Linked DNA regions of Homo sapiens: region 1 is linked to region 2. Evidence: fine-mapped expression QTL. A gene starts in region 2. The other region holds a variant in brackets. All regions are shown on one strand. Distances are between the middles of the regions. Region 1 has its middle 27 kb from the start of TEX13C. Region 2 holds the start of TENM1 (teneurin transmembrane protein 1).

Region 1 (8,501 bases), 88 kb before region 2:
TGGCTCACACCTATAATCCCAGCACTTTGGGACGCTAAGGCAGGAGAATTGCTTGAGGCCAGGAGTTCAAGATCAGCCTGGGCAACATAGTGAGACCCTATTTCTATTTAACAGAAAAAATAATAAAAGTAACAATAATAAAATTTAAAAATTACTCAAACTGTGGTGGCGTGCATCTGTGGTCCCAGCTACTTGGGAGGTTGAGATGGGAAGATCACTTGAACCCAGAAGGTTAAGGCTGCAGTGAGCCATGTTCATGTCACTGCATTCCAGCCTGGGTGGCACAAGGAGACTCTGTCAAAAAAAAAATTCTTCCATAGGAAATCTGGCATATCCAGTGTGGGACTAGAACCTGGCATATACTAGACACTTACTACTTAATGAGTTGTATTGTTGCACTTCCCAGCCCTATCTCTAATAGTTTTCTTCAGAGATGATATATTAGGGTAGTTTAGTGATTGGGAACTCAAGTCAGATAGAACTGTGTCAAGTCCCAGTTCTGCCATTTATGACAGAACTGTAATAGTAACTCCATTACTATTACAAAGTTTAATAATCATTTTGTGCTTTACTTTTCTTACCTGTAGTATGACAATAATAATAATACTTATAAGATTTGTTATGAAAACAAAATATAGTGTTGCAATATAAAGTACTTGGCCTATATGTTGCAATGTAGTACATTTTAAGTTTTGTTTTTTCTTAATTCTAAGTCAAAATAATGTTCGAGATGATGGATATGCTAATTATCCTGATTTGATCATTATGCGGTGCATGCATGTATTGAAATATCACATTGTCCCCTATGAATATGTATAATTATTATGCATCAATTAAAAATAAAATTTAAAGAAAAGGGAAAGTGATTAAGTAATCAAAACAGTGTAATCTATAATAAATAAAAGGCACATAAAATGCTATGATTGTGCATGTTCATGATTAAACATGATTAAATAAACATAAAAAAGCTATATAGACACCTCACCTTTTTTAGACTTCTTAATCTTAAAAATGGTTTCATTATTTAGTTTATAATGCATATAGTACTTTGTTGTAACTTTATTACTAAATATCACTATTTAGTTCCACTTTGACAATAATATCAATCCCCAAAACACATTATTTGCAAGCATCTAGTTTATGAAACGTGCGTGATTCATAGATAATTAAAGTTAAAATGAATTACAAAGTAAATTTTTAAAACTTCTATAGTTGAGCTTCACAAGCCACACCTATTGCAATATCCTTTTTCCGTCATTTACTTCCCTATTCAGAATAACACTATCCAAACTTCTTTTAGGGCATTAATATTATGTAAGTCTAAACGTGAATGTGGAAGTACTCAATGGATTAACTTAAGTATCTTGTTAATTTGTATTAATTATCTTAATTTTTTCTATTCTCGTTTTCAGGAGATTTGAATAACAAAGTAGCATGCATTGATTAAAATTCTAAGTTGACAAAAGCTATTAATTTAGGAAACATACATTTTATGCAAAATGTGGTGTCACGCAAAGACTTATTTATTTCAGTGTAGGATAATCCAGTATGGTGATCAAGATGCATACAGATCATATGCCAGCTTCAGCTCTGTAATATTTTTCTTTAGGGAAAAATGAAGAGCTGTCTTCAGAAGCTGCAATTTCAGGCATTCTTTATAAACACTGTGAATAGTTGCTCAAGTCCAGTTAATGTATTTAATATCGACAACTATCATGACTATTTGGATTGCAAAAGACTTCTTTTATTTCATAACACTTTCTTAGTCTAAATCACTGGTCTTTAAACTGCAGTCCATGAGTCATATCTAGTCTGCCAACCAATTTTTAAACAAAGTGCTATTGGAACACATCCTCCCACACTCTTTCATTTATGTATTAGCTACCTCCTTGGCTTTATGATGGCACAGTTGACTAGTTGTGACACAGACAGAAGGGCCCTTGACAGAAAAAATTTGCTTAAGTCTGGTTTAAATCATTTGCACCATTACGTCATTTCTCTACTACCTTGAATATCTCCAGTCCAGTGGAAGCTTCACTAAGCCAAATTTGATTTAGGGGATTCTTTCAACTATGGTAATGTATTTTCACTTTCTTTTCTCAGTTAAATTCTTTTAGATTTAGTATAGACCCACTGGCCACATTTAATAACCAAAGATCCACTCCATGCCTAACTGTTCTCTTTGAAGTTTCCTAAACTTCCTTTAAACAAATTTCACAGTCTCCTTTTAATTCTCATTATTCTAAACCTTTCATGCATGACAATTATGATCACCCTACCAATACAGAAGTTCTCTCTCATTTCTTGGCTCTAAATTATAATAATATCCTGTTTTTCTCTTTTGTTATAGTCTTCTTTGGCTCATCTTCTTCCTTTCACTTTCTGTGTGCATTCTCCTAGGCCATTTTATATTCTCATGCTATGCGTATCCCTAAAAAAAACTAATTTATTTTCATAGCTTTAACTATCACATCTATGACTGCTGACCCCTAAAAAGACCACCAAAATATCTTGTTGATCTGACAAAGTTGAATGTATTCTGTGTTGTATTAAGAGAAAACACCACCTTGATAGACTTTTAGTAGTGTCTTGGAAGGGGAAGGGAAAGGGCAGATCTTCATACAGTTTTGGGATTTGTCTTAAGGAAGGTCTTTCAAAGAAGGGATCTGCCTGGAATCGGAAAAAAAAGTTGTAACACAGATTTTTAGATTGGTGAATGCAGCAAAGCAAGAATTTTGAAGTGTCCTGATGAGTAATCATTTGATAAGCAAGCAGTTTGCACATTGAGTGATCTGTCATCCTGAGAATGGTGATATTTACCCTGATGAGTAACTTCTTGCCTTGAGCAGGGCAGCTAACTGATCAGCTTATTGTTCAGATAAAAACCTTGTTGCAACTTTATTTTCCTAGGCAATAATGTCCTGAAATAGTAAAGTAATGTTAACCTTGACAGCCTTAGTTCTTGAACTCATTAAGCAGTATGTTTGCAGGAAGTTTGTTCTCACTTCTAGTCCAATAACTTGCAAATAATATCTATAAGATACAGTCTCACTTACTCTAGATGACTGCTATGCCAGGTCCTATTTTCAGTTTCATTTTTATTAATGGTACTAATATACTTCAGGAATCCTAGGTTTGAAGCCTAGGCATTATATTTAACTGCTCTTTCAAAATGACTCCCAGTATTCAACCAGTCATCAAGTTTTGTCTGTTTATAATCTCTTTGATAAAATCCTCCAAAAAGTGATGAGACTAGCATAAGGAGGAAGTAATGAGCAGCCAGGGCTACTTCCTCAGATAGACTGAAGGAAAAGGTAACTTCCTGAATGAAATAATGGTTATGTATGTTAAAGCAGTGTCACAATTACTCAATTACTTGTTAGCCTGAGTCTAGGGTTA[C/T]ACAACTTCCAGAACTGTGATGTAAAAAGAAAAGGTTAAATTGCAAAACAAATGATAGGAGAGAGAAATTTGGAAACCACTAGCAAAACTGAGTGCAGTGCTGTGAAATGTCTTCATCAAGATCTACAACCAGTTAGAAGTTAGAGGTCTGGTATGGTTTGAATGTGTTCACCAAACTTCATATGTTGGAAACTTAATCCCCAAAGTAACAATGGTGGGAGGTAGGAACTAATAAGAGGTGATTAGGTCATAAGGGTTCCACCCTCATAAATGGATGAATGTTATTATCATAGAAATGAGTTCTTTTATCTCTAGATGGGGCTTATAACAAAAGCGAGTTTAGCTCCCTCTTGCTGTTTTGCTCTCATGCTCTCTTGCCCTTCCACCTTCCACCATGGGATGATGCAGCAGGAAGGCCCTCACCAAATGTTGGTGCCATGCTCTTGGACTCCCCAGCTTCCAGAACCGTGAGTCAAATACACTTTTATCATTTACAAATTACATGGCTGTGTGGAGTTAGCTCATGCCTGTAATTTGAATACTTTGGGAGGCTGAGACGTGAAGATGGCTTGATGTCAGGAGTCCAAGACTAGCCTGGACAACATTGAGAGACCATGTCTCTATAAAAAGTTTTTAAAAATATTTTCATTGATTAGAAAAATACCTAATTTGAGGTATTCTGTTACAGCAACACAAAATAGACTAAGACGGGGTCCCTATAAAGTCAATTTCAGTATATAATCAAGGTTGACTAATAAGAAAAGAGTAAGTATTGGCTGATTGAAATAATGAACCCTTACCATCTTTGTGAAGCATTCAGGAATAAAAGCAAAGTATTGTTGCTCTGTTCTAACTTTCTCTAGAGGATAGAAACCATACGACCATTAGCTGACTATTCTTCCTCAAGAACATAAATTCCTTCCTTCCCACTGACCACCAACATTCTGATCATGGATAGTTTGATATTTGGGGAATTGTGGATTCTGGTTCCCAGTTGGCAATGAATTCTTCACCACAACAAACAGGCTTGAGCCTGTTTTCGTGATTCTGTGAATGTCAGGTCTTTCTGATAAAAATTAGTATTCACCAGTAACTAAAAAACAGATAGAGGCTATCTGTCCTTAACCCTAAAAACCTGGCTATGAGGAGAAAACAATCCTCAGACCAAATTCCAACAAAGGTACTCACATTTCTTCACAACCTGTTTATAGATAAAAGAGGCCCCTCTTTCTATCCTTAAGTCCACCTTGCATAAAAAGTTTACTCTAAAACAAATGCAATTGCATTCTTTCACCTAAATGGCAGAATGTGGAAGCTTGTCGTCCTATCAAGGGGTAAGATTTTCAGTGAAAAGGAGATGCAAGACCAATAAGTTTCAGTCCTGGAATGTACCTATGACACAAGACTTCCGATTTCCAACACCTTGCAGATTTCCAACACCTTATTCATACCAATGAGGTTGGTCCTCTTGCACTATTCACAGACAATCACATATCTAAAATACTGTTATTTTTTCCAATCAAAAAATATTTTTAACATTCCTGTGCAAATTGGCCAACCCTAAGTTGATGTATTCATTTAAGATACCTCACCTGCTAATTAGCCCCAAGTGTTGCTTCAGATAAAGACATTTCATATGCTAATTAGTTACCCCTGGGATTTTAATTAGAATTAACTTTTTAATGTTATTCATCACATTGTTTATACAGCCATGATGTATTTTAAATTCCACTCAGACAATATAACTCAGTAAATGCTGCAGGCCCATATATGTATAAACATCATGAAAGCCCACTCCATACTCCATAGCCTGGCTGGCAGAACATAGAAGAACTACATTTCAGACAAGTGGGATGAGCCCAGCCTGTTAGCTCTGCCTCTTAATGTATAATTGCACGTTCTAAAATTTCAAATATGTAGCATTATCTTCTTCTTCTCTGAATTCTCAGAGCACTTTTGGATTTATTATAAGATCCATAAGGAAAGGATCCAGTTTGTTTTGATCACTGCTCTGTTCGTGGCTTACAGAATCGTTTCTGATGAATGAATGTATCAATGAATAAACACATGAATGTGTAAGCTCAGTGATCCCAGACTATGACTGAATCTCTCTGAGCCTCTGAAGTTTCCTTATACATAAAAAAGGAATAGTAATAATACTTACTTTATATTACTAATGTCATATTCTTAACTCAAATGCACTTTACATGGTGCCACTACATTAATTTTCTTGAAACACTATTTTATACAACCTTATCACTGCACTTACCATATTGTTGTATAATTATCTCTTTCTGTGTCTGATTTTCCCACTGGACTATGAATTTGTTGAAGGCTGACACATGATATTTTATATTGTGTCCCCAGATCTAGCACGGTGAAAAGCACATATTAGGTCTCAATGAATGCTTGTTGAATGAATAAATCTGCTTGAGTCATTGCAATGGTTGAAATGAATATAACCATAATTTATATCAAGTATCTGAGTACCAAATTTAATTTTATACTTATTTTCAAAGTTTGCCCACTGTAAATATTTCTACTTTATTATTAAATTGTACCATGCTAAAAAGTTAGGTTTTCAAAGGAAATTAATTCCTCAGAGTAAGTTAACTGAGCCAGTTGATTTGTGGCTATGTGTACAAAGGCAAATGAAATAGAAAGTTGAGTAATTGCTCTGTCAATTTAGTCAATATTGACAGCCACTCTGGAGCACACAGTTTACTTTTTACTTAAATAGTACAGATAATTGTCTCAAATCTAAAAAGAAAGAATGACCCTGCATTTGTTCCCCATATGACATAAAACTGGTTACTGTGAGATGGAAAATTAAACCATATAAAAAGGTACTAGTATGAGGGTACTAATTCCTTAGGCATCAGAAGTACTTACTTATAAAGTTCTTTTCCCTTTAAGATAGCTACATGGTATGACCCTTAGGGAAAACGCCTCTGAAGACTCTATAGTTTTCAAGGAAAGGCACCAAAAAATTGAAATACATTTCCACCCTAAACACATTACTGACAATTCCACATCAACAAACAAGCTTAATCCTTCTTTAGACATATTTGTCTTGCTAGTTAAAAAAAAATTACTAGAACCATGACATTCCCAGTTATTTTGGAATAACTCTAAAATAAGCAGAGACCTTTAAATTCCAAATACTGAATTTTTAAATATGAGCAAAAGCACTTGAAAATAAACATTTATATTTTCATTTATAATTCTTCCAAATTCTAATTATATTTTCTGCATTCTTATCTGCATATGATTTTTACTTAAAACCTAGATGATGGGTTGATAGGGTGCAGCAAATCACCATGCATATGTATACCTATGTAACAAACCGGCACATTCCGCACATGTATCCCAGTACTTAAAGTTAAAAAAAAAAAAAAATCTGAAATTATTAAAAGATGTATATTTTTGCTTATTTTAAATTCATTTTTATTAATTGATAGTATCACCATTCATTAAAATTATATAAATTGATTTAAATATTAAAGCTAAGCCTATGTAAATTAAATGCCATTTGTTAGTAAAAATTGAATTTTGCTAAGAGTTTCAGGTTGATTTAGTTGCAATTGAGCCCTAAATTTAGTGCTCATCTTCTTGGACTCAAACATAAATTGAAAACATTATGGGATTTTATAGTTCTTATTGTCTAATAATAGAAACCAAAAATATTTGTCTACAGAGACAAATGTTACCAGCATTTAATTATTGTATGAATGCTTTGAGGAGCATGGCATAGACTTTGAGAAATATGACAGGCATCGACCCTCATTTTGGTTTTGTCTTGCTCCGTTTTGTACTGCTATAACATAATTCCACATCCTGAGTAATTTATAAACATTATAAGTTTATACCAGGCATGGTGACTCATGCCTGTAAATTCCAGCACTTTAGAAGGCCAAGGCAAGGGGATCACTTAAAACCAGGAGTTTGAGAGACCAGCCTGAGAAGCAAAGCAAGACCCCATCTCTACAAAAAAATAACAAATAAAATAAATTATCCAGGCACGGTGGTGTGTGCCCATAGTCTCAGTTACTCAGGAGGATGAGATGGAAGGATTGTTTGAGCCCAGGAATTCAAAGCTGCAGTGAGCTATGATCATGCCACTGCACTCCAGCCTGGGCAACAGTGAGGCTGTCTTTAAAAAAAGATAATGGAAAGAAGTTTATTTGGCTCATGGTTCCGGAGACTAGGAAGTCCAAGAGTATGACACTGACATCTGGTGAAGGCCTTCATCCTTCATCATCTCATGGCAGAAGGTGGGAGGGTAAGAGTGAAAGAGTAAGAGAGGGCCAACCTCATTTTCATAACTGCCCACTCACAATAACAAACCCACTCCCTCATGACCTAATTACCTCTTGAATGTCCTACCTCCTAAAACTACTGCACTGGGGATTGAGTTTCCAACACATCAACATTGGGAGACACAGTCAGACCATAGCATTTTACCTCTGGCCCCTAAAGTGCATATCTTTCTCATATGAAAACGCATTAGCTCCACCCCAATAGCCCCAGAGCCTTTACTCATTCCAGCATCAACTCAAAAGTCCAAAGTCCAGAGTCTCATCTAAATCAAATATGCATGAACACAAGGTATGATTCACACTGAGGCACATTTCTCTCCAGCTGTGACCCTATGAAATCAAAACAAATCATCTGCTTCTAATACACAATGGTGGGACTGTCATAGGCTAGACATTCCCATTCCAAAAGGGAGAAATAAGCAGGAAGAAAAGGGTAACCAGTCCCAGGTAAGTCCAAAACTCAATAGAGAAAACAACGTTAGGTCTTAAAGCAGGAGAATAACTTCATTTTACTCCATGTTCAGCACCCTGGGCACACTGGGGTGGAGATCGGGCCCCCAAGGCTTCTGGCAGCCCTGCCCCAACAGCTTTACTGGGCTCAGTCCATGCTTCAGATCCCTTGGGTTGGAGTTACATGCCTGCAGCTCTCAGGCTGGTATTGCACTCCGGTAACTCTATAGCTCTGGGGTATTGATGGCGGACTTACTCCAACAGCTCTACTAGGCATTACTCTAATAGGGACTCTCTGTAGTGGCCTCATTTTCAGAGCTCTACTAGGCACTG
Region 2 (8,501 bases):
TTAAATGCCAACCGAGTAATACTAATTGTTCTATACTCTTTTCAAGTTCTTTTCCTGGAGTGTAATTTTATCTCTTAAGGAGAAATCACGGTACATTTTGAAATCAATTTTTTTCCCCTTTTCAACAACTGTGATAGTTAAAAAATGCTAAAAAGTAATATTCTTAAAAGTATTTCCAATAAAAAGACAAACACTAGCATTAAGTCAGCTTTCAGATCTTCAAGGGAAGGCACTATGTTATCTTTATGAGGGTATAAATTATTATTATTGCCATATTGGTTTATGTGTATGGATAGTGAATATAAGTGAATTTTATATAAATTAAGGACCAAGGTACCATTTTTAAAACTATCTATAAATTTAAATTTAGGCAGTTATTTGAATCCATTATAGCAATAATACAAATGAATTGCCACTGCACCCTATTGAGAAGCTTTGGTTTCTGAAGGTTATGATTAGTCTGTATTAGGGATGTATTTTATTCTGAGAGTAAGGTAAAGCAGCATTGATGGAGCCTTTCCAGTGAGGGATATTATATATGAATGTACACTTCCATGAGCAGAACTTGCTGTGTGGAATACAAAGTGCCTTGCTAAAGCCCAAACTTTTTTTTAAAGGCATTTTGTTTCTCCTTCGCACTCTGGCCAGAGAAGTAGCTCCACAGGGTCCATTTGGATACTAAATAGGATTAGGTAAAGAGAAGACTTTAATTGGCTTGCCAGTTGTTTTCCTGAGCCTTACTTGGGTATGTGAAAAATAGTGTGTCTGACTCTGTTCTGAACAGATGGATGCAGAATCCTGGCCACCAACTGTTCATATCCAGGCTCAAATAAGCTTCCTCCAAGGTGGCTGCTTTCCCCAGGGGGAGCCCACAGCTGGCCGGAAATGGGCACTCCCTTGCAGCAAGCTGGTGACTGCAATTTTACAGCCCTGTTTATGGAAGCTGTTTGGGTAGAAAATCATTAAGCTACCTTTCCTGCTTCCAATCATTGTAGCCAAAAGTTAAGGTGCCAGCACTACTCATAATCTCTGCTAGTTGATCTCTGGATGGTGTTGTTATCAGTTGAAATAGGAAATAATAGTCTACCACAACGAGTACATGTTGAAATTATGCCTTTGAAAACATCTTGCCATTAGACAAGCAACCAAACAAAACTCCTTCATTTCAGATGGTGCACATTGATTTTGTTTATGTAATTGATATTGACTTTAGTCTTCTAATATTGATATGGTTTGGTTGTGTTCCCACCAAATCTCATGTTGAATAGTAGTCCCCATAATCTCTGTGTTTCATGGGAGAGATCCTGTGGGTGGTAACTGAATATAGGGGTGGTTGCCTCCATGCTATTCTTGTGATAGTGAGTGAGTTCTCATGAGATCTGATGGATTTATAATGGGGGGCTTTTCCACCTTTTGCTCTGCACTTCTCCTTGCTGCCACCATGTGAAGAAGGACATGTTTGTTTCCCCTTCCACCATGATTGTAAGTTTCCTGAGACCTCCCCAGCCATGCTGAACTGTGAGTACAATGAAACTTCTTTCCTGTATAAGTTACTTAATCTCAGGTATGTCTTTATTGGCAGCGTGAGAATAGACTAATACAAATATTATTGTACTTACATTCTTATTATGAGGGTACTTAGAAACAAAACTGACATGTCATATTTTCCATTATGCATTCTTCTCACAGAATGCAACCTATAGATTAAAAATATATTTAAAAAATCAAGGCCAGAACATCTAAATATTGTTCTCTAGGAGTGAAATAGTCTAGATACACGGTAACAGTCACACAGTATATACTTGTTGATTAGCAAATTGTTCACACATCTTTGAACATTTCTTAGCTTCTTTAAGTCTCAATTTCTTTGCCTATTCCCAATGCTGGCACAGTTCCTGGAATATAGTAGATGTTCCATAATCACTTGCTGAATTGAATTTATGTAATTACATTAGTTTTGGGAATAAACATAAAAAGGTGTATGAGTGCATGTGTGTGTGTGTGTCTTTGTTAACAAAAAGGTATATATCTTAAAATTCCTAGCAAATTATTTTAATAATATACACTTGGCAACTGGACAACTGTCATATAGAGATTGCATGCTCCATTACAATCTGTTATATTTACATTGGCTATTCTGAAACTAGCAATTTAGTGTGTCTTCTTCCTGATATTCATATTTGAAATAGAAATTCTTGGTCCCATGAGCAAAACTACTTGAAAATTCTGCAATTTCATGTTGCTTAAATGTGTCTGGGGAATCTCTAAAGTTGAATAAATGCCTTAGGAAATCCACCTACAATATCAGGATATAGGCGTCTAGAAGCAGCAAATCAGTTCTTAGGAAACAGAGAAAAGTGACAGAGCCCTCTGTACTTCGGAATTAGGACTGGAAACAATGTTTTGAAGGAACTAAAGGGAGACAGGTGCAGACCAAATGAATTAAGGACACCAGGGAGCCACAGGAGACCAGTAAGGAAATGAGAGGGAAGAATGCTAGAGAAAATACAGCATAAAGAGGAGGTGGTAGAGAATTTCTAAAAAAAAATGATTACAGGGACTGCTGAATTGCCAGGAGAGAAACAAACTCGGCCTCCTTTCATGAAATCCCTAAGTATCAACTCTCCCTTTCTGCCAGTATCTTCAAGAAGAGTAACAAAGGAACAGCAAGAATGAGAGTGAGATAATCATGCTTTTAAATTCATATTCCATTTCCTTGGTCATTAGGGTTTGTCCATGTCCCATTTGGCCAGAATTCCCTTTTTGTTATGGGGAGTTCTTTTCTTAATCGCTGGTTACGGAAACACCCAGAGTATTTCCAGTCATTGGAGAAGTGACTGGCCAGATGTTTCTTTTTTTTCTCCTTCCAGAACTCTTTGGTAAGGATTGAGGAGGTATCCTGAAAGTCTTCCTTCCACAGTTCAGGGTTTGGGCAGTTCATAATGTGGAATCTTTATTTAGGATACTTAAATCTATATATGTTTATACAAATAACTTGTTTTTGTTTTGTAGGAGGGTAGTGGGTTTTAGGAAGGTTTCGTTTACATATTTGTGGCAAGACACAGGTTTTATACCCATCCTTTCACTACTGCTTTCTCAACAGCCCAACAGAGAGCCGGTGATAGAAGCAGTTGCTATGCCCCTACAGAGCCTGGTTGTCATCTTTTGTTTCTTTGTTGGCAGGGCGGTGGGGCGGGACGGGAGTGGGAGGGTGTTGAGCCGCAGGGATCCAAATGATTCCTGCCTGAAGCTGAAGACCTTGTTGGGAAGGGACGATGGGAATAAACGTGCTCTTGATTCCCTGATTCTTCCCCCTAGAGTGTTCAGCTCTTTGTATTTCCTCCCCTTGGTGGTGTGATGGTCTTACAATGCTCCCTCTTTGCAAATACCTATATCAAAAGCTGGGAAAATGGGAACACACGGTTCAGAGAACTCCCCCTGGCGTCACTCTGTACTACCTCTCTTTCTGAAACTGAATCTGGTCCCCCTGCTCAGGAGCACAGAGACCAGCCCGGAAGCCGACCTTGGGCAGCTGCCGCCACCCAGGGAAGGGAACAGTTGGAAGCTTTGGTGTTCGCCCACCGCGCCAAGAGGAACTCTTCCCGGTAACTAGCACCAGCCACGACTCCAAGCCTGCCTTATTGTAACCTCTAGCGGGTTCCCAACTCGGCAATAGCTTCTCGCTCTCCTGTCCCTGTTCTTGCGGAGGAAAATTTAAAACGTGCGTGCACATATACGCATTCACACACGCCCTTCTTTCTTTACTTAAAAAAAAAAAAATCAGTAAACGTCCTTCGCCCAAAGAATGTTCGACTCTTCACGCTCTCTTTTCTTTACCTAGAGGTCAGCAGTCCCTTGGGAGCACACGCGGTGCTCCCTAGCTGCTCTGCGCGCCCCCTACCTGCCTACGGCTGGGGTGGCACCGCGGGGCAGGAGGCCTGGGAATCCGCTAGACTCCTATTTCTCCAGTTTGTGCAGCTCCCCTGGCTCGGCACTTGGTATCTCCCACGGTCTTGCTCTCTGTGGGAAGCCGGAAAGAAGACTGCTGTGGGCGTCGCCGCCACCCCTCCCGGAACCAGAGCCTGCTCTAGCGTGCATCCAAGCCTCCTACTTCAGACTCACATCTGGCCCAGTCGGACAGATGTTAGCCGCTGGAGAGTGCCTCCATGCGAAGCGCCCCAAGTCCCGAGCATGCCCAGTCGGACTACTAAGGCTTCTGACGCGAGTTTCTGGGCGTGCAGATTCCGCTTCTCCGCTTTTTCGAGGAAGCTGAGGAGGGTTGGGAGGGAGGGAGGGATCCAGGGCTTGGGGCAGCGCGCTGGGTTCGCCCGAGTACGTGCCCTGGTGCCAGGCTGGGTGAGGGGCGGAGCCGTTTAGGGAGCCCAGGAACCTGGGCGGCCAGGCAGGGCAGGATCCCTTAGCGCTCCCCTCTTCCCCCAACCACCTTCAGGTGGACGTCGTTACTGCTGATCTGATGCGCCGCCAGTAGGCTGCATGTGGCCGGCCGGCCTTGGCGCTCTGGGGTCACACTGTCAGCAGGACGCAGTCGGCGGTGCACTCTCACCGACAGACGCACGAGAGCTTGTGGGTCGCTTATGCACCGCATTCACGGGCTTTTGGCTTTTCTGGAAGGCGGGGGAGAGGAGAATAAGAAAAGGAAACCAAACAATTTCTCTCCCCCCGCCCTTTTTTTTTTTTTTTTGCCAAAGTTATACTGGCAAAAGACTTCGCATTCTAAGTCAGTCCTGAGGCTTTGAACATAGAAGCAGTGATTGTGCTCCTGTGTGTGCGCTCGTGTGCGCGCGCGTGTGTGTGCACGCGATGTTTGTGTATGTCATGACTAGGTAACACTGTCCCAGGCTGATCCTGGGGTTGACAAATACTCATCCGAACCCCCCACCCCACCCCTCACCCTCAGGAGAAAGTAATTAAAAAAAAAAAAAAAAAAAAAACATCGAGTGAGTCACCTGGCCAGGCATCTATCCACTGTAGTAGGAAATCTAAATTTTGTTGATCCATATTTCCTTCCTCTGCTTCCATATCCAGCTTTCTCCTTCCCCTCTCCACCCTATAACACCCTGATCTTTCTCATTGCGACTTCCCTTCCTCTGCCCGATACTTGCTCCTTAAGCCCTTCTCCTCTTTCTCCTCCTCCTCCTCTCCCTCTCCTCCTCCCCCCACCTCCCTCCACCTCCCATCTCAGCTGCGGCTAAAACCTGGAGTCTTGGGGAAAAGGAGAAAAAAAAAAAAACCTCGGCTGTGAAGCTGTCAAACCGGGCATGCTCAGTAGACAGGGCAGGTTTTTTGGTCTCGAGTAGCGGAGAAACATTTTTTGCACCACCGCGACCAGCCTTAGAGCGCGGCGGCGGCGGCCACGGCAACATCAGCCCAGCCATCAGCCGAGCAGACGCCCAGCACCCGGGAGCGCGGCGAGCTTCGGCTCAGCCCGGAGTTCACCTCCGAGTGCCCCGGGGGCTGAGCTCACCCCTTCTGCTCTCTCACACACGAACACTCTCTTTCACTCACACACACACACGTATTCACACTCTCTCGCACACACATAGGACCCTGGGCGCAAGCACCCTTCTGGCAGCGGTCGTCCGCTGGTGCAATAGTAGCTAGGTTCGGTTCCTGCCTCCGGCGGCCGCCGGTTTAGAGCACCGCTGCCAGCAGCCGGAGGAGAGCAATGCGGGGGCCCGAGCGGCAGCTCGAACAGTAATGTGGATTTACAGTCGTTTCCCGCAGGAGTCGGCCGAGACGCCCTAAGTCCCGGGCACTGGCAGCGCCCGGCGGAGCCGAGCACCTGGCGAGGGGGCGGGGGAACAGCACCTGGGGACGCCGCCGAAACTTGCGCTTGGAATAGGTAGGTGCGTTTCTCCTGGCTCCCACCCCATTCCTTCTCGCTCCCGCCCGCCACCCCCAACCTTCTACCCCAAGGACTACAGGCGAACTTCGCCCCGAGGCTGCAGGCGGCGGATGGCGGCTCCTGGCTGTTAGCGGCCGGTTGAGTCCGCTCTGGGACTCCTGCCCGAGGTGGCAGAGCCTCCGCATCCTTCTTCTCCCGGTCTCCGCCGGCCATGGGGCTCTGGACCATCTGGGGCAGAAGGGAGGTCGGCCTTGTTCGCAGTTCAAGCTTCCAGCGGGCCCTGGGGACGCTGCCCTTCGAGGGCTCGCTGGGCTTCCCAGGCGGCACTTTTACCAACCAACTCCTTCAGTTCTGAGAGGGAGCCTCCTCGCCTCGGCTCTCGCGCAGAGCCCAGTCACTCTAACAAGTGGACCTGGGTGCTTGGGGTGAGGATGGGAGGCTCGGTCTAAAAAGAAAGAAAGGGGCGCTTCTCTGGCATCCCTCCCACCCTGGAGCGTTCGCCTGGGGCTCTGCCACTGGGGTCCAGGTCCTGCTGTCTCCGCAGAGAATATGCCCAAGGGCTAGGACGCACTTTAGTACCTGTTTGCTTCTGAATTTCTATTTGAGCCTCACTCAGGGAGCCCGGGTTCCCGGGGGAACTGCAGGACCTCCTAACCTACGCCGCCGTCGAGGGCCCCACCCGATGCGTCCTCCCTATACCTTTGTCAATCTTTGTCAAAAGAGATAGTCATTACAACCCAGGCGGTGCTCCAGGAGCCGTCGGTGTTGACTTTAACCATGCGCTCCAATGTGCGGGTTTGTGTGTTTCCGCATTTCATCCAGAGACTTGGTCCCCGAGATTCAGCAACGGCCAGCATATCTGCGAGCGCCAAGCACCCGCTAGGCAGGCTTGGGGAAATGTAACCTCACTTTCTTCCACTCCATAACAGGAGGATTGCCAATTTAGTTTCAGGATGCTTTGCCTAGAGGCGGAGAAGGGGAGATTGTTAGCGCTACTTGGTGAGTGGATGTGTTTGCAGTCAGGAGTGTATTTAAACATTTCAGTGAACCCGATGCAGTCAGTTGTTTACAATTGCGGAGACAGAGGATCTCACTCCACTAGTAGATGTTTCCACGTCTGTGTCGCCACTGGGAGAGTAGGGGCGGGGGCGGGGGCTGGTTTGCAGCTCGTACTCGCCGTCGGCAGCTTCGGGTTGAGCAGATCTGCATCACTGCTACTGGCGATATGCTAATAGGGGTAGAAAAGCTCTACATCTCCAATATGAAGCAATTGGTCAGTAAACGTCCTGAACTTAACCGTTGTTTTCCTGGGATACCAACCTGGAGGTGTTTTTGAGGTGGCCCAAAGAAATACAAAGAGAAGTTCTCAGTGCTACAGAAAGGAAATTAGTAGCCATTTGGTTTTAAAGACCAAAAGGAAACGAAACATCCCAGTGCACTCTAATAGGTACTGTTAGATTAGCGTTTAATTGATCGCGTTTGTGACGAGTAAGTGTCGCAGACAGCTTCCTTGAATTTTAGACTCTTGTTCTATGATTATAATTAACAAGCCAGGTAACAATGTACTGTGAGAATCAATTGCTACTCTTAACGTGTTTGAGGAGAACATGGCAAATGTCTGCTCTATTATATTTTTTGGCTGAAATAGCCCAGTTCATCTTCCTAGTCCGAAGTCTTCTGATCTGGAGCAGTAGATACTCCAGTGTTACCAAGAAAGGGAAGAGTCTAAGAGGGAAAGGCTTAAAAAACAAAATTAATGAAAAGGCGATCCACACCTTTAACTTCTGCTCCATGATTACCCAGCATCTGCTTGCTTGCTCACCCCCGCTCCTTGCTCTTCATATCTGCAACGTGGGGAAAAATGAATTTTCATAAGGCATAGTAAGACCCTCAAAGTACATAACTGGAGAAACAGAATCCCAATTTTGCCATTTTAGTTCAAGTTCATAACACTATTTTGTGATGCATTAAATAATTTACTATGGCAAAGTTGGGGTTTTTAAGAGTAATTAAAAGCTTTCAGGTATGACAAAATAATGTTGAAAACTTTTCATGATTAAAGAAAGTCGAAATATGCATTTAAAAAGGGATCAGGTAATTCCTAAAATAAATCCATGCTCTAAATATTATTTAAAAGTTTTCAGGTTGTTCCCCAGAATGTTTCTGAAAAACAGGTGTTTCTATAAAACAACTCTATGAAGAAATGTTAACATTTTCATAATAAAACTAGTAGAGTCCAGTCCTGAGAACAATGTCAGCTATACATAGCAGAAAAAAACCCCACAAATATTTTTGCATACATGAAGTAGTATTTTCCATTAGGTTTAGGTTCCAATTATGAATTAGGGACAGTCATGTCATTTGACAAAATATACAGTGAGGCTAAAGGAAAGAATGCTTTGTAGAATCATTGTGCTGTAAAGGTGATTAAGATTTCAAATATTCAAACGTTTAGGTGTATTAAAATAAAATTGTATTATACATAACTATCATCACATTCAAAGGCCTAATTCAGTCTGAATACCCTAGAATTCTCAGTGTTTCAATTCAGCTATTATATGTGTAAATAACACCGACATAATCATAGTTTCCCTCATAGTCATTGATCCTTTCTGATACCTTTACCAGAAAGATT

The links. PIP is the estimated chance that this variant, and not a neighbour inherited with it, causes the effect.
Region 1: its variant is fine-mapped to the expression of TENM1 in whole blood (TOPMed, PIP above 0.99).

The regions. Positions count from the first base shown.
Region 1 is chrX:125,288,903-125,297,403 of GRCh38, reverse strand. No RefSeq gene overlaps it. Among named protein-coding and RNA genes, the nearest start is that of TEX13C, 27 kb to the left of the region's middle. The variant C/T (reference allele first, on the strand shown) is at 3,400.
Region 2 is chrX:125,201,166-125,209,666 of GRCh38, reverse strand. TENM1 (teneurin transmembrane protein 1) reads left to right here and starts at 5,355. Exons shown (of 35, transcript NM_001163278.2): 1 at 5,355-5,863. LOC124905211 (a long non-coding RNA gene) reads right to left here and starts at 5,207. Exons shown (of 2, transcript XR_007068314.1): 1 at 4,968-5,207; 2 at 1,547-4,625.